Homo sapiens: one gene and its partners. The protein of the gene in region 3 purifies or fractionates together with the protein of the main gene of each other region. This does not show direct contact. Each region holds a gene or a part of one and is shown on either strand. Other genes may lie near its edges.

Evidence for each region. The genes of interacting proteins can lie anywhere in the genome.
Region 1: the proteins of CCDC68 (region 3) and NIN purify together in Homo sapiens (affinity purification with mass spectrometry; 3 studies listed by BioGRID and IntAct, with this or other methods). This does not show direct contact.
Region 2: the proteins of CCDC68 (region 3) and CENPF purify together in Homo sapiens (affinity purification with mass spectrometry; 3 studies listed by BioGRID and IntAct, with this or other methods). This does not show direct contact.
Region 4: the proteins of CCDC68 (region 3) and FBP1 purify together in Homo sapiens (affinity purification with mass spectrometry; 3 studies listed by BioGRID and IntAct, with this or other methods). This does not show direct contact.

The regions. Positions count from the first base shown.
Region 1 is NC_000014.9:50,824,381-50,828,827, forward strand, and holds part of NIN (ninein), read right to left. Parts: intron 1-4,447. UniProt on the Homo sapiens protein: Centrosomal protein required in the positioning and anchorage of the microtubule minus-end in epithelial cells. May also act as a centrosome maturation factor.
Region 2 is NC_000001.11:214,601,293-214,606,276, reverse strand, and holds the start of CENPF (centromere protein F), read right to left. Parts: upstream 3,083-4,984; 5' UTR 2,956-3,082; intron 821-2,955; exon of another isoform or gene 198-820; intron 1-197. UniProt on the Homo sapiens protein: Required for kinetochore function and chromosome segregation in mitosis. Required for kinetochore localization of dynein, LIS1, NDE1 and NDEL1.
Region 3 is NC_000018.10:54,956,007-54,961,143, forward strand, and holds the start of CCDC68 (coiled-coil domain-containing protein 68), read right to left. Parts: upstream 3,456-5,137; 5' UTR 3,330-3,455; exon of another isoform or gene 3,177-3,329; intron 2,043-3,176; exon of another isoform or gene 1,969-2,042; intron 1-1,968. UniProt on the Homo sapiens protein: Centriolar protein required for centriole subdistal appendage assembly and microtubule anchoring in interphase cells. Together with CCDC120, cooperate with subdistal appendage components ODF2, NIN and CEP170 for hierarchical subdistal appendage assembly.
Region 4 is NC_000009.12:94,636,437-94,641,548, reverse strand, and holds the start of FBP1 (fructose-1,6-bisphosphatase 1), read left to right. Parts: upstream 1-2,030; 5' UTR 2,031-2,238; coding exon 2,239-2,408; intron 2,409-5,112. UniProt on the Homo sapiens protein: Catalyzes the hydrolysis of fructose 1,6-bisphosphate to fructose 6-phosphate in the presence of divalent cations, acting as a rate-limiting enzyme in gluconeogenesis. Plays a role in regulating glucose sensing and insulin secretion of pancreatic beta-cells.

The DNA.
Region 1 (4,447 bases), on a different chromosome or scaffold from region 3:
TATTTCATCTCCTTCCTTCTCAAAACACTGTGCTTGACTGAAGGGGAGACAAGCACCACCCCTGTGGAACAAATGCTCACGCTGAAACATCCAGGAGATGTTACGCATGGTGACAAGTTGTCAGTGCTCATCTGGCACAGAAGGCATTTTTACTGGTTGATATTATTTCCCAAATGTTCATCAGTAATTTCATGTGCAAGAATTTTTTTCTCCCCACTTGGCAGAAAGTTCTTTAATGGTAAGATCCACGCTCCTATTTCTTTTATATCTTCCCCCAAATGCATACTACAGTCAGTCTGTTCTTCAAGCCAGGGATTTGGTAAATATCATGGATTGACTTCCTGTATGGATCACTCCTTGAGAGGAAACGTACCCTAAATGAGGTCTACAGAAATGGGCATATGAAAATTTTGGAATGCCCATCTCATCCACCTACACACCTCCACTTCCCCCATCCCACCCTTTCTCAAAGGCATTTTCAGCCTCCTAAGCAAGAAGTAGAAAGCCAACACCAACTGCCAATCTGTAACATGCAGCGCTGTCTGAAGTTTAATTCAATAGGCTAGTAATTAAGTAAATGGATTCACAAACTTCGACTGCATTGTCTTGCTATGGGATGAAACTTTGGAGGAGAATCTATACTAAAACCTTTCTCAAGTCCCCTCGATTACAGCATGAGAATAACAATATCCATCTGGAAGGTTTGTTCTGAGAGTTAAATGTGGCAAGCAAGCGAGAGTGGCTAATTCCAGAGAAAGCTGATACAAGAGGGAATTTAAGATAACCAAAAGAATACCTGCAGCTACAAAGGAGTGGTAAACTGAAGAGGAGGTAACAAGTGAATTATCTACAGATCTACCTCCAAAGAAGCAAAGCAGGAGATGTGAAATGCTATAGAACAGACTGAGAATGGGCAGGGAGTGTACTATGTATATAAACATCATTATATAACTAAATGATAATGGCAGCAGGTAATGTTCAGAGCTTCCTCTATCTTTAAAAGCAGGTTATTGATAAATTTAATGTCAAATAAAAGCAGAAAGCTGCACTGTAACTGGGAATTACTTCTGAACATTTACTATGAGTCTGGCCTAAACTAAGTACTTTATGTATATCATCTCATTTAATCCTCCCAAATCTTAGAAGTGGATCTTCTCATTTTCCCACGCAAGATGTAGAAATTGGGGCTTGGCAAAATTAAGCCACTGTCCAAGGAGACAGCATTAATCTCCTTGAACAAAATGGGGGTGGAGCCAAGATTTGCACTCTAGTGTGACACTGAATTATATTATCCCTCAATCCTACACATGCACACAGAACACATGAATGAGACCTCTGAAATGATGCCATTGGCAAACCACTTATCTCCACCTTTATGTGTTAGCCAGTTGAACAGTACTAAGCAGTAGAAATCCCCACACAACACTCCATGGCCACAAACTTTTCCAAATTGGAATTGAGAAGCAGAGTTCCTTCCTTCCTACCTCCCTTGATCCATTTATTGAATAATTATAGCCTACAAGGCACCAGGGATATACAGATAGAATACACATTCCCTTTTTTTTCTAAAGCAGCTTTGGGATTTAGGGCATGAAAGAAAGAAATTCTTATATAAAAATGATCATGAAGTGTCCCATGTCTTCAATAATGGGCATTGCCCAGGAATTGGTAATTCGTAAATGACTTCCCCTGAATAAACACTTAAGTATGTATAATCTGTGCAATCCAGTGCTTTTCAGGGTCAGATCCTAACTGGTACCCACCAGAGGCAGGAGTCTTACTCAGAGATTAAGAAAGTTACATTTTGAGCGAGAAATTCTACTTCAAATTGCAAAGAAGAGCTCCAGTGTTACGAAGCCTGCCATAATAAACCTGGGCCTCTCCTCACCATCTACCTTTCCAGTCAAATTGTCAGAAGGCTTTATGACTCTTTCGGAATGAAAGAACCAGTATGGGCAATATTTTGGAGTTCTAACTGGGGATGGTTAAATAAGAAGCAGATGCACAGAACCATTAATCAAAACATTTACCACTCAATAACCACCCATAATGACAATTATTCTGAGCATTTTCCTTCCAAATAACTCAAAATAAGGCTGCCAAAATGCTGCCGACTCTGACAGTGGTGTTCATTACCCCAGCTGATGAAATCACAGTGCCAAATAGGACTGCAAACTAAATAGGTGGAGGTGTGGCTAGAATCATGAGTGGACATGTGGATTTATGAACTTTTCAGTGTTCAACCAAGGTACAGAAAGGAGCTTGTAACAATGACACCCCAGCTAAAGGGGACGTCTGTTCTGGGCCAGAGGGAGTGAAAAAGGGACAAAGTCTGGCGAGTGAAAAGGGGACAAAGTCTGGCAAGTGAAAACCAAGTAATAAATATGCACAATGCTAGAGCCCCTAGCCCAGGCCTTTTATTTCGCATCCAGATGGTTCAGCAGCTGAAGAGCTCTGCGGAATGTCTGCATGCCCCTCTCGGCTCAGCTGCTTTCCTTGAGAGGGCATCATAATAGATGCTTTTGGACCTGTGTGCAGACATAGCTGTTGGGGGTCCACAGACTAGGCAGTGACCACCAGTGACTCATTTACTTACTCTACAGCTGACGTGATGAACACCGACAAACCCCACTTGGGCAAAGCTCTCCATTTATGCCTTTAGCTTTCACCATTTGGCAAGTCGGAGCCTAATAACGCCAATGATCAAATTAAAGTGCTCTTTTTCTTCTTTCTTTTCTGCAAATACTTTAATTGGCTGCACAGATTTTCAGGCTCACCATATTGGACTACTTTCAGTATAAAAGGAAAGAGTGACAAGGATAAATTCAAGTTTAGTAAAAGCTCAATAGAAAAAGCAGTTGCAGCCATTTACGAGTTTATATAGGAGAATACTTCCGCCAAAAACCAGTGCTGCTTAGCAGCAAACTGATTACTGTCAGAATGCCTCCTCTCTGCTCAGTGTCTCACTTCTAGCTGGATACCAAAAGCACAACAATATCACTGTGAATGAAATCATGATACAAAAATATAACACGAAAGCTTAAATGCACAGGAAGAAAGTCACATTAAATACATTTGAAAAAATGGCTGGGAGCGGGGGCTCATGCCTGTAATCATAGCACTTTGGGAGGCTGAGGCAGGTGGATCACAAGGTCAGGAGATCGGGGCCATCCTGGCTAACACGTTGAAACCCTGTCTCTACTAAAAATACAAAAAAAAAAAAAAAAATAGCTAGGTGTGGTGGCGCACACCTGTAATCCCAGCTACTCGGGAGGCTGAGGCAGAAGTGTTGCTTGAACCTGGGAGGCAGAGGTTGCAGTGTGCCGAGATCATGCCATTGCACTCCAGCCCAGGAGAGAGCGAGAGACTCCGTATCAAAAAAAAAAAAAAAAAGAAAGAAAAAGAAAAATAACAACCTTTGTCAACTACACTATAATATTTAACTAAGGGAATCCTATCAGCGTTTATTCGAAAATGTAAGCAACCTTTATTATTTTACTATCCTGAAGGATGTAATAAACCCATGCTTTTGTTCAACCTAATAACTGGTAGATTACCCAATCAAGTAGTTAACTCAGGTTAGCTACAGGAAAAAAAAAACAAAAAACAAAAAACACAACAACAAAAAAACGCCATTAGCCTGGCACAATGTGCATTCAGTAACCTGTAATCAACTACTAAGTAAATTACAGAAGCAGAAAACAGAGCTGCATGTTTGTTACAAAAAAAAAAAAAAAGGAGAAAGCTTATAACAACTTCCACTTCTTAAGCCATATTGACTCACATTAATTTAGGATGCCTGAGGCTATGAGTATGGTACCCTGAGGTGTAAGTGAAGGTGATCTTCTCTTCTCACGTCTATGAACAATATTTTCCCAACTTTGTTTTTAAAGTGAGAATTAGGGTATAGATAGATGCTTTGTAATTTTTCCATCCAAAAGCTTGAATAAATGGTTAATTGCTGACTTAAATTGCAATAAAGAAGTGTCCTAATTTCAAACAAGGATGCTCACTTTCAGAATCTCATAATCTTTTCAAAATTCTATTTTATTCATAAATAGGATAAAAATCTTTTTGCAAGCTTCACTAAGTCTCTCCATAAGCCCCTGCCCAACAGATGCAAGTTCAATAGCTAGAATTCAAACCAGATAATTTATTGGCTTACAAATGAATTGGCATCTATAAAAATAAGCCTTCTAAAAAGGCTTCACGCTGTTTAAATCCTTCTAAAATGCTCTGGCTAAGCTTGCCCACCCTTTATCAATGTAAGACTGATAAAATGCATTTTCATTATCAACATAAAATGGAAGCATCAAGATAGTTGAAATGTTAGTTTAGAAAGTCATTTGCAGTGACATTTAAAACAATTTATTTGAACATTTGACTCATGATAAGAATACTGCCTATTACATTAAGATTGGCTGTTCAGAATTCACTGGAGCCCTAT
Region 2 (4,984 bases), on a different chromosome or scaffold from region 3:
CTGGCTTCGCCCACCGCCGCGGTGTTGAGGGCTGGGGGTGGCCCTCGGGACTGGTGTGGAGCCTGGGCCTGACCCACTGACTTGGCTGAGTGGGGAGACTGGAGGGTCGCATCCGGAGCTGGGCCCGGGGACGCCCGCTGGCGGGAAGGGTGCGCGCGCGTCGGAGGCCGCGGCTGACCCTGCTCCGGCGCCTCCAGGTACGGCATCAGCCCGGACAGCATCATCCTGTACGGGCAGAGCATCGGCACGGTGCCCACCGTGGACCTGGCCTCGCGCTACGAGTGTGCCGCGGTGGTGCTGCATTCGCCGCTCACCTCGGGCATGCGCGTCGCCTTCCCCGACACCAAGAAGACCTACTGCTTCGACGCCTTCCCTAACATCGAGAAGGTGTCCAAGATCACGTCGCCCGTGCTCATCATCCACGGCACGGAGGACGAGGTGATCGACTTCTCGCACGGGCTGGCGCTCTACGAGCGCTGCCCCAAGGCGGTGGAGCCGCTGTGGGTGGAGGGCACCAGGCACAACGACATCGAGCTCTACAGCCAGTACCTGGAGGGCCTGCGTCGCTTCATCTCCCAGGAGCTGCCAGCCAGCTCGCCTAGCGGCGGCACCAACCGGCCAGACCTCAGCAATAAGGCAGCCCCCGGACCTCACCCCGCGCCGGCCCCCCAGGGGCTGCATGTGGACCCCCGGGCGGCCCAGGGGACCCCGCTCCAACCCAGGGGCTGTGGACGATGTACAGGCAACAGAGCTACGCACTCCTTTCCTTTTGGAAGCAAGAAGAAAATACGTGAAAACAGAAATTAAAGATTTAAAATTTAAAAAAAAAAAAAAACAAAGCGGATTCTTCTAGCTCAGGCACTTACGGATGTATGACCTTGGGCAAGTTATTTAGCTGCTCTATGCCTTGTTTCCCTTGTTTGTAAAATGAGGATAATAATGATGGTGACTTCCTAAGGCCTTAGAAACAGTAAGCTTTCCTGGTAAGCTTTCCATATATGTTAGCTATTACATACTTTTTAAAAACACTTTTTCACTTGTATATTTCAGCCTATGGTACAAAGGGTGAAGTGGCCTACCTCCTTCTCAGCCACATCTTAGGAAATAGAAATCAGCTGGAAGAAAATATAGCAACTTTCCTTTATTTTAGCCTTCAGAACATAAACAAAAAGAAAAATCATTCATTTTCCAGTTACTTAGGCAAGAGTTTGAGAATTTGTTTTTTTACTAAATAAAGTTAACGGCCATTTTAATGGTTTTTTTCAATCGATTTTATCAATGAAACTTTTTATCAAAACAATAAGCAGTTCATGAAAGTACTAAGAACAATAAAAAAAATTAAGAGGGAGAAGCAAAGGTCTTAGACAACATATAAGTTGGATATCAAAGCCCTGGAAAGCTGTGTTTTGCTACCAGTTTTGTTTTTTTTTCTAGCTCTCAGTTCTTGGAACACAGCATCTTGTATTCCACTCCCATTTATCCCAAAACTACTGAAAGGAGTCACATGCCTCTCAACCAACAAAGGACAACTGACCCTGTCTCAATATCCTCCATTCCAATCTAGTTTGTCAGGAGTCAAAGAACTGTACCCAGAGACACACAACTGTAATTGCCCTAAACAATTCAGCCAGCAACTGAAATCATTACATCAAGATGCTATAGCCAACAGAATATAAAAAGGAGCAATTTAGAAAGATGATTAGAAAATGAGGGGAATAAACATAAAGAAGACTGGCAAGCTGAATGCTTTTCCATTCCAAAGTCTAAGATAGAGAACAATATAGATGTAGACCAAGCTAACTGTGATTAGAGCAGATTTTGGCCCATTAAGGGATCAGCTATCAGCCACCTGTATTGGGCCATTGGGGCAAAAGAACAAAAAAATAAACCCAGAAGTTTACTTTTGAGGAACAGGGAATCGAGGTGGGGAGTGAAGAAAAGCCCTGGATGAAGGTTCCTGCATGGAGGACTTGCAGGACTATTGTCCTTTCCAGAAAATGCTGTATCTTTATCTCTTAAATACGTGGAGGGCACTCTTCATGCCCGAACTACCCAGTCCCTTAGTCCCCAAGGAAGCTCTTGTGTGACCTCCTCCTGCCCCACCTCCACCACTGCTTTCCCGTTGTCAGAATTCCCCACCTCCTCCAAAAAGCCAGAGTCCCCGTGCACTGTACCAAGGCTGGGTCTGAGAATGATAACCCTGCCTTCTCCTCTAGGTCAGGCTCAAGGACACGACCCATGCCTTTTATTTCTGGGTCCTCATTACACAGCCGAGCCGGGCACACAGGCGCGTTCAAATAAATGTGGAAGGGAGGACCGGGCGTAGTGGCTCATGCTTGTAATCCTGGCACTTACAGAGGCCAAGGCGGGAGGATCCCTTGAGCCCAGGGGTTCCAGACCAGCCTAGGCAATATAGGGAGGCCTATCTCTATTTAAAAAAAGAAAAAAAAAAATGTGGACGGGAGGAAGAAGAGAGGGGAAAGAGAAATGCTCGCGTAACTAACCATAGGCACCCCACGTCGCCAACCAGATCAAAACTCAAGCTTACATCTACTCAATAAAACAAAGGACCAGGGCCTGAATTTCAATAAGGTTGGTTACGGGACTGGGAAGGCGGCTTGGAAATACCTAGTCATCTCCAATTCTTTTACGGAGGAAGAAAATGATCCCCTAAAGTGTGAGTCCGTGACCGAGTAGGGTCTGGGACACTAATCCGAGACCAGTTTGAACCCGAGCAGAAGGGCGCAGACACCCCTACGAACCACATCCCGGGGCGGATTCTCCAGTTCGGTCGGGTGGGAGGGGGCGGTCCCCGGCACCTACAGGGCCGGGAGAGTGATCCCAGAGGCCTCCCCGCCCAGTACCCGCCGGCAAAAAGCCAGCGGCACCCCCACGCCGCCCGCCGCCTACCGCCCGCCGCCAGGGCCAGGATCCGGACCCAGTCAGGACGCTCACCTTGCTCTCGGGGACGGGAAAACGACCTCTCGGAGAGTACAGTTCTGGCGCGGCTTCGGCGGGCTGGAGCCCAGAGTCTAATTCAAACTGCCCGCAGCCGCCACCGGTGCCCAATTCGCCCGCTTCTGGTCTCAACCAAACTTACCTCCACGCCTATTGGTCACTCTAAGTAGCTGCGGACCAATCCGCGCCTGCGCACTCAGACTGCCGCGTCTGATTGGCCCTTTCGGATGGATTTTAAAAACAAGCCCTCTACTGGAGGTGCCTGCGCCGGAGTTTACTGTTCTTTTTTGTTGTTGCGGGGAGACGGAGACCACGTGCTTTTGCTAATGCTAGACGCGGTTTTGGACCGCTATTTCCGCAAAAGTCAGGGAATGCGCCCGCTGATTAGGAAGGCGTGGTCTATCGCCTACAGCCAGGGGAACTGTGCTGCCTGGTGAAACCTCTTTTAAACTGCACGTACCAATCTACTTAATTAAACGTAAATTTAGGACATAGATACTAGGTGCTGTGTTTGTCATGCATTCTTTATCCGGTGTCGTTCTTAACAATTCTTTGAGGAAAGTATTATCCTCATTTTATTAAAAAGTTAACAGGCTCATAGAAGCTAAGTACAGTAATTTGAAATTGAATCTACGCAATGCAGGATGTCGCTCTTAAATGCTGTCCTTTATGGTTCATATTTCTAAGACGTGATTCTGAACACTTATTTTCCGGGATTAAGGCGTGGGGGGAGGACACTGCATCAGAATTTAAAATTCAGAAGAATCCTCAAAACGGGGTGTAATGCTTTTCGTGAAGCCCACTAGTTTTCTATGTATGTTATATACTCGTTTTATTTCCCTATTAAACTATAAATAAGCTTCTAAAGGCAGAAGCAAAACAATTAATTGTTAAAGTAATAGATCTCTAATGCTGTTGTCTGCCTCAATAGGTACCAAACTTTCCAGCCCCCTGACTTTACCTTTCATTAGACTGTTCCTGCAGTACCCAATTCAAGTGTCACTTTTTTTATAAAACCTCCCTAATCCCACCCACTCCTTAGAGATAATTATTTCCTAGACCTTTCCTGGAACTTGCAAACTTCATGTTTAGGATTTTCGCCGTGTCTTGTCTTGTATTTATGTCTACGTCTGACTCCCCCATCAGACTCAAAAATTCCTTTACAGTAAAATCTGTTTTAATTCATTTTTGCATCCCTAGTAACTTTGCACATAGTAATTTAAAATCCAGATCATCTTGGGAGATAAAACTGCTATTTGGGGAAAGGCCTTGTTCTTACTATCTTCTACCTTCGAATCCCCAAAGGGAGGGGAGAGAGCAGGTAGGGGAGGAAAACTTTTGTCAGACATTGCCATGATCAGTCTAGTGTCTGGTAGTTTTAGAATTTGAACCAAATTGTGTCTGGCTTCAACACAAATTACAATTCCATTGCTTCCCAGAGTAATTATTCAACTATGTATAGGCTGTTTAAGGAAAAATAAACAGCTAGAAAGACAGATAATAGAGGATATTTTTAAGGTTTGAATAAGAAATTTGCATTTACTATTCATTCATTCGTTCTTCAGCAGATATCTATTGAGTGGCCACTGTATAGTCAAGCCTTGTGCTTCGTTTTTCTACAATGAACAATAAAGAAATACATTCATTTCTTGAACAAGGGAAATAGGATGGATACCATTCTAGTAACTCCTGTGATATTTCTCTGACTTTAATTTTATGCTTCCCTTCCCCTCCCTTTATTTTTCCCCCGGTTGGTTTGTTTGTTTTGTAGGGGGAGGATCCCGTCCAACCAAAGACAGATGTTCTCTAAGGGTCCATTTTTGGCTCTCTGCTCTTCTCTTTTTAAGTCCTTTCCCTCAGTTAGCCAGTCTACTCTCTCTGGATTGTTCATCCACTACCTCGATATTCTGCTTGTGGACCAGTGTCTTTGAGTCTTCCCATCTTTTCTACAGATTAGACTGCAGGTTCATCACTGAAATCACTCTTTTGCCAGTGTCCTCAACTCCCTTGCCTCTTGTTCTATCTC
Region 3 (5,137 bases):
TTCAGACGAGTCTTGCTCTGTTGCCCAGGCTGGAGTGCAATGGTGCAATCTTGGCTCACTGCAACCTCTGCCTCCCTGGTTCAAGCGATTCTCCTGCCTCAGCCTCCCGAGTAGCTGGAATTACAGGCGCATGCCACCACGCCCAGGTGATTTTTGTATTTTTAGTAGAGATGGGGTTTCACCATGTTGGTCAGGCTGGTCTCGAATTCCTGACCTCGTGATCTGCCCAGCTCAGCCTCCCAAAATGCTGGGATTATAGGTGTGAGCCACTGTGCCCAGCCAAGGTAAGAAGTTCTTAACATTGGTTTGTTGGAGAGTTACACACAGAAAACACCACTGCTTAATAGGAACCTGGATGTTTAACTCTTGGCATTCATATTTAAAATTATCATAGAAGAGAGTCAAAGCACCAAATAAGAGGTTGGCTCATATCAGTTATTCTCACATTATGCTACCATAGAAGCTGCACCAATGTATCTGTTTTACCATGCAAAAGTATTTGCAGAAAGGTCTACCAAATGGTGAACAAAATGCGGCATAGCCATGGCATGGAATAAATCCTAGTTAAGCAATAAAAAGGAACCAACTACAGCTACATGTGACAACCTGAATAAACCTCAACAGCTATTCTAACTGAAAAAAGCCAGATGCTAAAGACTATATATTGTACGATTCCATCTGTATGAAATGTCCAGAAAAGGCAGATCTAAACAGACAAAATAGATTAGGGGTTGCTGGGGCTGGGGTAAGAACGGTGAGTGATTGCAAACAGGCCCCAGGGATATTTGGGGAATGATGAAGTGATCTAAAATTGGATTGTGCTAATGGTTGCACCATTCAGTAAATTTACCAAAAATCATTGAATTATACACTTGGATGTATTTTATGGTATGTAAATTATACCTCCAATAAAGCTTTTTTAAAAAAAAATACAGAAGGAAAAGTAAGAATAACTTGAATAAAGATGCTGTTTTCCTCTGGGGGTGGGGTGAATGTAACTGTAGTCTTATTTTTCTAATTTATAGGAAAAAATATAATTTAATGGATAGATGTTTTTCAGTTTTAAATTTTTTGTTCATTAATTTTTGTCTCTAGATTATTGTCATCCATACTACAAGTTTAGTTTTTATTTAATTTGCATGAAATTGATACTTAGCTATTTTAAGTTAATATTTCATAACATTAAGCCTGGAACACATGATTCCTAAGTTCTTCCCCAACCTAAACAAAAGAGAAAACCACTGAGCAGAATAACATGCAAGCTCCTCTATCATTTTTAGACTTGACTTTTTAAATCAGTGAAAGGAAATATGTGATTTGAAACTAATCTAGTTTTAGTCACTGTCGAAATTGAATGGATCATTTATGTGGTCTGTAAATCTATGGCCTTGACTTGGGGTGGCCTGGAGGACTCCAATGTAGTAAATTCCAGGAGGATAGAAATGTGTCTGATTTACACAGGGCTGTGTTTGGCCCAGACCCTACTTCCCCTCCCATCTGGTTCTCCCACACAGAACACAGTGTCCTCAATAAATATTGTTTCAATGAATACATGAATAGGCCCACAAATTTACAGATGTACCAAATAGTTTCTAAAACAATGTACACACACACACACACACTCTCTCTCTCTCTCTCTCTCTCTCTCTCTCATTTTCCAAACCTATATAAATGGCTGTTTTTGTGCTTAGTAAATGACATTCATTTAAACGTGTTAGTAAATTCATGGTAAAATTTTGCCATTATGAAATGTTTTCAATCAATAAATAGCCATATAATTTTGATGTAAATATCTCAGTTCTAAAGATGAGAAACTACTATTTTAAAAGACTTTTACATTCCCATCAAAATCTTCAGTTATTTCCCCTTTCAGTCATTATTCCAAGCAAATAAACACCTCATTTTTCAGGTTTGTCTAAATCTAGCTTACATTTTTTAGCTTTGGCCAAAATTTGGATTACAACTCACCTTCAATGTTGAGCATACTGTAAACAAATAAGCTAACAAATAACATGCCTATCAGTAATTCACAAAATAGCAACAGTATTAATTTCAAAAGTCTCTTTCTAGTTAGGACAAGGGATCAATTTATTTTGTAAATAACAAGAGGAAAGAACCTTCTTATGACGTCGGCCTTATGACGTTGGCCTGGGTCCCAAGAAGTGTAGTTGTTTTCATTCTTTCTGCAAACATTTGAGGAACCACACGGGGATACTCCCTGCCTTGGGCAGAAATTCCTCTGTGTCAGGGGCCTTCCCTCTCAAATTGGGAGTGGGGTGGGGAAGAGAGTGGGCAGCGGGGGAAAAGCATAACAACAGCACCAATTGTGTCTGCCAGGGTACCTGACACTCCTGCCCAGCTCACATATCAGGAAAACCAGACTTCAGTAGCTCTGAATATTTAATGGCATTAGGTAAAATCAAAAGAACAGATTATCTCCTCCCTATCACAAACACAGAATAATTCCTTTTTGTATTCTGACACTTCATCCGAACTATATACACCAAGAAAGTAAAAGAGGTTTTGATTCCTAAAATAAAACAATCAGAATATAATGGGGAGCAGGTACACCTTCAGTTATGTTCAGGGCTTGTTGCTTGTTCTGATCCTTATATTCAATTTTGTCTTCACTTCCAAAAAGGCTGAAAATTCACAGCTATGTTATCATCCAATCTAAAAACTACACTTGCACGGTCCCGTACTAACCTTCAGTAAGATAAGAGTGTTCCTTTGTCTAGCCGCCTAGCACTCTGTAACTTCCACATCTAAAATATCATGATGCTACTCAACATTAAGGAAAAGGTCAAGCAATGGGCTGCTCTTTTTACTACACCTGCGGCTGCAGAAGCCCGCACAAATGAATGAAGACAGCCACCTTCATTCATCTCTGCTCTTTAAAAAATGCGAGCGCAGTGACCTGTCAAAGCCACCACGCTGGAGTTCCTAGGTCAGGGCGTTTACCGCAGGACTTTTCTCCATAGCCTCTGAAATTAGCAGGCAGAAATCGCGGGGACCCCTGACAAACGGATTGTATAACAACAACCTAAATAAATAATCAGGTGTGCGCCGGACTAAGTAGGGGTTCCTCTCTGCGGAAAAGCAGCTCTTCCCAATGGGGAAGAAACTTCTCGCCCAGGAAATTCGAGCCCAGAACCGAGGTTTCCAGGGAGGATTACCTCTTCAACAAGGACCCTTTTACAGGAAATGTCCTTGATGCCAGGAACTCCACTGGGGAAGCCGCTGGAAAGGCACCTGGACACCCACACACATGGAGGGGATGCGGGGGCGCGCCGCAGGGACCGGGCCCGAAGGTGGCCAGACTCGCCTACCTTGTGGGGCGCCCAGCCGACGCGGGGTCCCGGTGCTGCTCCTCCCCTGGGCGATCGGACCTTGGGGCCAGGGTCGGCTGCCAGGGCCCTGCGAGTGCAGCCGCCACCGCCCGCAGGCTTGGCTCCGCCCCGCGGGGCGCGCCCAGGGCAGAGTCCGGCGCCGGTGAGGCCCCGGGGAGGAGTCGCGGCAGGACGCGTACGCCCAGCGCTGGAGAGCCAGGCTCTGCCCCTCACGCCCCTCGCTAGGGTGCTGTACAGGCGGGTGGGGGGAGGGGATCGGCCGCTGCTTTTCAAGAAGGTTCTATTTGCACCCTAAGTTTATAAACTTTTGTTTTTGTTTTTTAAATAATTTTTGATTTTATTGTTTTTAGTATAAATTTATGGAGTACAAGTGCAATTTTGTTGTTTTTTTAAAAAACTTTCTTTTGGAACTTAAAAAAAGTTGCAAAGATAGTAGAGAGAGTCGTCTATATACCCCTCAGTCGGTGTCTCCTAATGCCTACAGCTTCCATAACTGTGGCACATTTGTCAAAACTAAGAAATTCACATTGGGCCAGGTGCGGTGGCTCACGCCTTGGTAATCTCAGCATTTTGAGAGGCCAAGGCAGGCGGGAGGATCGCTTGAGCTCAGGAGTTCGAGACCAGCCTGGGCAACATAGCGAGACCTCATTTCTACTAAAAATATTTTTTAAAAGACATTAACATTGATCTGCCACTATTAACACTACTCCAGACTTGATGTAGCTGTCACTAGCTTTTTGGCTAACGCCTTTCCCTTTCAGGATCCCAGCCAGGATACCACACTGCATTTAGCATCCTGTGCCCTTTGTCTCCTCTAATCCATGACAGTTTCTCTGTCTTTTCTTGACTTTGACAGCTGTAAAGAATTCTAGTAAAGTATTGTGATGAAGTATTCTGGTAAGGTATAGTTTTGTGGGGGTACCTCGACACCCACTCATGTGGGTATTGTCTACTGTTTTTTTCTCATGATGAGACTGGGGGGAGGAAAGACTCAGAGATGAAGTGCCTTCCCCACTGCATCCTCTCAGGGACGATGGCACGATGGCCAGGTGACTTATCACTGGTGACTTGACCTTGATCCCATAGTTAAGGTTGTGTCTGCCAGGTTTCTCTACTGCAAAGCTGTTTTTCTCTTTCCATACACTCTACTCTGAATGGCATGAATGGCATGACTCAATTCAGCTGACACTCAAGATGAGGGCAAGATTAAACTCCATCCCAGAGCAGGGAGTATCTATATGTTATTATTTAGAATGATTCTGTAAGGAAGATTTGTTCCATCTCTCTTGTTTATTCAATCATTTATGTCAGTATTTGTTATGTCAGTATGGACCCATGTATATTTATTTTATACTTTGGGCTAGAATTCAATACTACATTATTAATTTTGTTGCTCAAATGGTTCCAGCTTTGACCACTGGGAACTCTTTCAGGTTGGCTCCTGTGTCTCTCTGAAAGTTCATAAACTTTTAGGATTGTGGGGAAAAAAAAAAGGTGTATTTCCTCCGCCCCCCCTCAACATCTAACAGATTGAGAAAACTGCAACCCAAATCCTTCAATATCCAAGGGCTTTTCAGAATCTTCCTGGGAATCCTATGATTACTGATTCCCACCACAGTTAGAGAGGAATGTTATTTTTTTTTTTTCCTAGCAGATTAACTTGTAGATTGTGACCCAATTGGAGAAGTGAAAGTTGATGGTTCTTAGGTAATTTTTTTGTTAACTAATCCTTGTGGTTCTAGTAAATAGATGTATGTATGTTTACAGACAAATCGTGTTCCAAAGAT
Region 4 (5,112 bases), on a different chromosome or scaffold from region 3:
AAGACCCTTAAAGGATCAACTCTCTTTGCCAGGCATCTAAGTCCCCTCTGGGGCTTTGAGGAGACAGTCGCTGTCTTTCCTGGTGGTACCACCACCTTCCTTCATTCAACGCCGCCGCATCTGACAACCCTGGGCACAGGAATCTGCACCCCAGGTCTCCACGGTGAATCCAGCAGTCAATTTTCAGAGCTTGTCCTGCCTGCCCCATCCACACCGCTTGGCACATGGGTCAGCCCGCCTTTACTTACCTTCTTCATCTGGCTTCCCGGATGTCACATCTCTTGGTTTTTGGTTGGTTTTTCCAGTTGGCTTTTCCAATTTATACCTGCAGCATGGATCTCTCCTCTGAACTCCAGATACATAAATCTGTCTATTTGACATTGCCTTGGATGTCTAGAAGGCATTTCAAACTTAGCAGGTCCCACACTTAGCTCCTAATTGTCAGTCCTGCCTCCAGCACACGCCCCTCTCGGTGTTCCCCATCGCAGTCGAGGACAACTGCATTCTTCTAGTTTCTCAGGCCTCAAACCTTAGAATCATCCGAGACTCCTGTCTCTCACATATCTCATCTGTCAACGAATCCCATCAGCTCTACCTTCAAAATATGTCCAGAATCCACCACCTCCACTGCTAACACCTGGCTCACTATCTCCTAGTAACCTGGAGGGCACTGTCTTCAGTCTGATCTTCACACAGTAGCCGCAGTATGAAGACACAGGGTAGACCATGCCTCTCTTCTTCTCCAAACTCTCCAGTGGGTTCCTCCTAGTCAAAGTCAAACCTCACTTGGCCCTCTAGACCTCACCTCTGCATCCTCCCGCTGGCCTTATCTCCTCCACCTCTGACCCTTGCTAGCTCTATTTCAGCTCCACCGGTCTCCTGGCCATTCCCTGAACCTGAAACATGGTCTCCTACCCCAGGGCCTGTGCACTGGCTCTCCCGGTGAGGAAACCGCTCTCCTTCCCATCTCCACCGGCGCGTTGCATCCTTCACCTCTTTGCTCACATATCCCTTTCTCAGAGAAGCTTTTACTGAGGCCTCTGCTCACCCTCTTCTCCCCTCCACATTCCGTGTCTTCCTTTTCTATTTCGTTTCTCTCTATGGTACTTATGGCTTATGTAACAAACTAATCTATTGTTTATATATTTATTTTTACTGTTTCTCTGTGAAAACGTACACTCGAAAAGGGCAGGAGTTTTGTCTGTTTGGATCAGGCTCCACCCCTGGAAGGTAGGACAGTGTTCAGCACAGCAGGTGCTCAATAGGTGTTGTTTCGTGAATCAGCACATCAATTGCAGCATTGTGGCTACCAGGGGGTCAGGATGCGGGCGGTGGAGCCCTCTGGCCTTTGTGTGGTAGCCGAGGACTCTGTGTCAGCGACCGTTTTCCGGGAAACTTCCGGGCGAGACTCACATCTTGGAAATTCAAATACTCAATAGCTCTCGAATTCTAGGAATCTTGAGAAGAGGCCTGGATTAAGGATTCAGACGTGGGCCCTCAGATGGGTGAGAAACGGGGACTCTGTGTCTCCTAGCGGGGACAGAAGGGCCAGGTGACAGGCCAGGCAGAGTGGACGGGGCTTGGGCAGGGGGCGGGGGCAGGCAGCCACACGGGGCAGGAGCTGCAGAGCTAAAGCCAGGCCATGTGGACTGGCTGCGGGTTTCGCTGCCTAGCTGGTGGCATTGAGCAAGTTACTTAACCTTTCTGAACTTCCGTTTTATGATTTTGGAGGAAACAGTCATAGCTTTCTCTCTGGCAGAGTCCGATGGCCCGAGTCCCGCTCCACAGTGCGGGTGGAGGGCACGGAGGGGTGTGTGTGGGGGGCGACAGCCCAGGAAGACTAGGGGGCGGCAGGGCGCGTGGGGGCGGGGGTTGGGAGACCGCAGGGAGGATCCCCGACCTTGTCTGAAGATCCAAGCAGGCGGAGCCGCGGTCTGGTCCGCGGGGTAGGCGGGGCGCAAGAGTGTTCCCGGGGGCGGGGGGCCGACCCGCGTCTAAAGGTTTCCGCGATTCACCCGCCGGCGCCTGGCCTGGCCCAGTTGCACCACGAGCGCTGCGGACACTCGGGGCGGCAGTCGGTCTGTCAGTCCTCCCGCCAGGTCCCGCGGCCCGCACCTGCCGCCCGCACCTGCAGCTCCGCACCTGCGGCCAGTGCCTACTGCCCTCTCTTGCCGCCCGCACCTGCAGCCCCGCACCTGCCGCTTGCACCTGCAGCCCCGCGCTCTACCCGGTTCAAGCATGGCTGACCAGGCGCCCTTCGACACGGACGTCAACACCCTGACCCGCTTCGTCATGGAGGAGGGCAGGAAGGCCCGCGGCACGGGCGAGTTGACCCAGCTGCTCAACTCGCTCTGCACAGCAGTCAAAGCCATCTCTTCGGCGGTGCGCAAGGCGGGCATCGCGCACCTGTGAGTCGGGCCTTGGGCGGTGGGCCCCGTCCTGTCTGTCTGCCTGGGGAGCCTGCCCGGCGGGCTGACGTTGGGCCCTCTGAGCCTCCTGCCGTCAGCCTCTGTCTGTCCGTCTGATGTCTGAGCGCCTCTCTCGCTCTCTGTCTGGTAGCCCCTCTCTCCAGAAGCTGGCTCAGCCTCACTCAAGTCCTCATCTCCTCCCTTGACCTTGGAGGGGCCCACCTGGGGGTCCGTCTCACAGGTGTACACCTGATTCCATCTTGCATTCCTCTTCTCTGCCCTGAGCAGCCTGCCTCGTACCCCTCTCAGCCGGCCAAGTGTGGGCACCTGGCCTGCCCGTCATACCCGCCCTAGCCTCAGACAGGAAAGTGCTAGCTCAGGTGCCTTCCTTCCCCATTTCTTCTTTGTCCTCCTTCACTCTTTCTGCAATTAGGGACCCAAGTCAGGTTTCTAATCCAGTTATCTCTGACCTGAAACAAGACCTGTTAGGAGCGAGTGTCCCCCCCGCCCCCCCCGCAAGCAGGCTGGGAGGTCTCCTGTGTGTCCAGAGCCTTTAGGAGCAGCAGGGCTTGTGTGCAAAGGAGCTCCCGTGGGCTGCCCCTTGCTGGGACAGTTGCCATGCTGTGCCAGAAACAGGAAACACCCAGGGCTTCAAAACCCCTATCGATTTGCAATGATGGTGTGTGCAGCCTCTGCCCAATTAGTGGAAAGCTCAAAAGTGGTTTGTAGAATGGTTCTGAATGCGCTATGGAGTGCATCTCGAACGTCACTGGGCACAGGAATCATTTGGGGATCTTGGTAAGATGTGTGCCCTCCTTCCATAGCTCTGGGACAGGTCCTGAGATTCTGCATTTCTAAGAAGTTCTCCTGTGGTGGGTGCTGCCCATCAGATACTGTTTGTCTACTCATCACATTGTGAGTAGCAAGGGGTCAAGTGGAGTGGAGACTCAAAGGACCCCTTCTTGTGAGGTTTTTTGTAAGTCACACAACATCCTTTCGTTTGTGTTGGTGTGCACAGGTATTTTCTTTTTCTTTTCTTTTTTTTTTTTTTTTTGAGATGGAATTTTGCTCTTGTTGCCCAGGCTGGAGTGCAATGGTGCGATCTTGGCTCACCGCAACCTCTGCCTCCCAGGTTCAAGCGATTCTCCTGCCTCAGTCTCCCGAGTAGCTGGGATTACAGGCATGTGCCACCATGCCCAGCTAATTTTGTAATTTTTTTTAGTAGAAACGGGGTTTCTCCATGTTGGTCAGGCTGGTCTCGAACTCCCGACCTCCGGTGATGCCTTGGCCTCCCAAAGTGCTGGGATTACAGGCATGAGCCGCCGTGCGCAGGTATTTTCTAGCTAACTGATCCACACTTTTAACTGAAGTGTAACTGGGTTTTCAGATTGTCCATACACTTTACTAACATTCCCCGCACTTATGCACACTATAAAAATGACACATGATGGGCTGGGCGCGTAGGCTCTAGCCTGTCATCCCAGCACTTTGGGAGGCCGAAACAGGTGGATTGCCTGAGGTCAGGAGTTCAAGACCAACCTGATCAACATGGTGAAACCCCGTCTCTACCAAAAATTAGCTGGGTGTGGTGGCAGGCGCCTGTAATCCCAGCTACTCGGGAGGCTGAGGAAGGAGAATTGCTTGAACCCAGGAGGCAGAGGTTGCAGTGAGCCGAGATCGCATCATTGCACTCCAGCCTGCGCGACAAGAGCGTGACTTTGTCTTAAAAAAAAAAAAAAAAGACGCATGATGCTCAGAGCTGACCTGAACAAATACAACCCTGCTACTTGGGTTTGGAATGCATTTCTCCATTCTTAAAAACTCTTCTCCGCCCCGCATCCTGCAATCTAGATTCCTTTTCTTACTGGCAGGCTGTCTGGCTTTGGTCCCACAGTATGGACTGGTGGAGGTAATTCATGTAAAGGAGTGGTATGATCACATTTATTTTTGAATATTAAGCAGACATGTTAAGGAAGGTGATGACTCCATTACTGTTGCCTCTGGCCCCTCTTAATAATACATTCCTAAGGATTCTTATTTTAGAAACATACCCAGGTGAAATCTTAAGCTTTAATTTACAGCTAGTATAGGTGGCTCACAGCTTTAACTGCCTTTGAGGACCAGGGATATATTTTAAAAAGAGGGCTTGTCGACTGGGTGTGGTGGCTCACACCTGTAATCCCAGCACTTTGGGAGGCTGAGACGGGTAGATCACTCAAAGTCCAGGTGTTTGAGACCAGCCTGGCCAACATGGTGAAACCCTGTCTCTACTAAAAACACAAAAATTAGCCAGGCATGGTGGCAGGCGCCTGTAATCCCAGCTACTTGGGAGGCTGAGGCAGGAGAATTGCTTGAACCCGGGAGGCGGAGGTTGCAGTGAGCCCAGATCGTGCCACTCTACTCCAGCCTGGCGACCGAGTAAGACTCTGTCTCAAAAAAAGAAAAAAAAGGGCTTGTCATGTCTGATATTGTTTAAAAAATGTGTCAGTACCTTTCACACCCCTAGAGAGACTGAGAAATGTAAGATGTGTTTTGAGGTGTCCCACTGTCTAAGTAACCTTAGACAGTGGGACCTTGGATAGTGAGATTTTGATGGTGGGGCCTGGATGAAGCATGTTAATTTTGGCTACGTAAGGTATGCGTTTTATTTATTTATTTATTTTGAGATAGAGTCGCACTCTGTTGCCCAGGCTGGAGTGCAGTG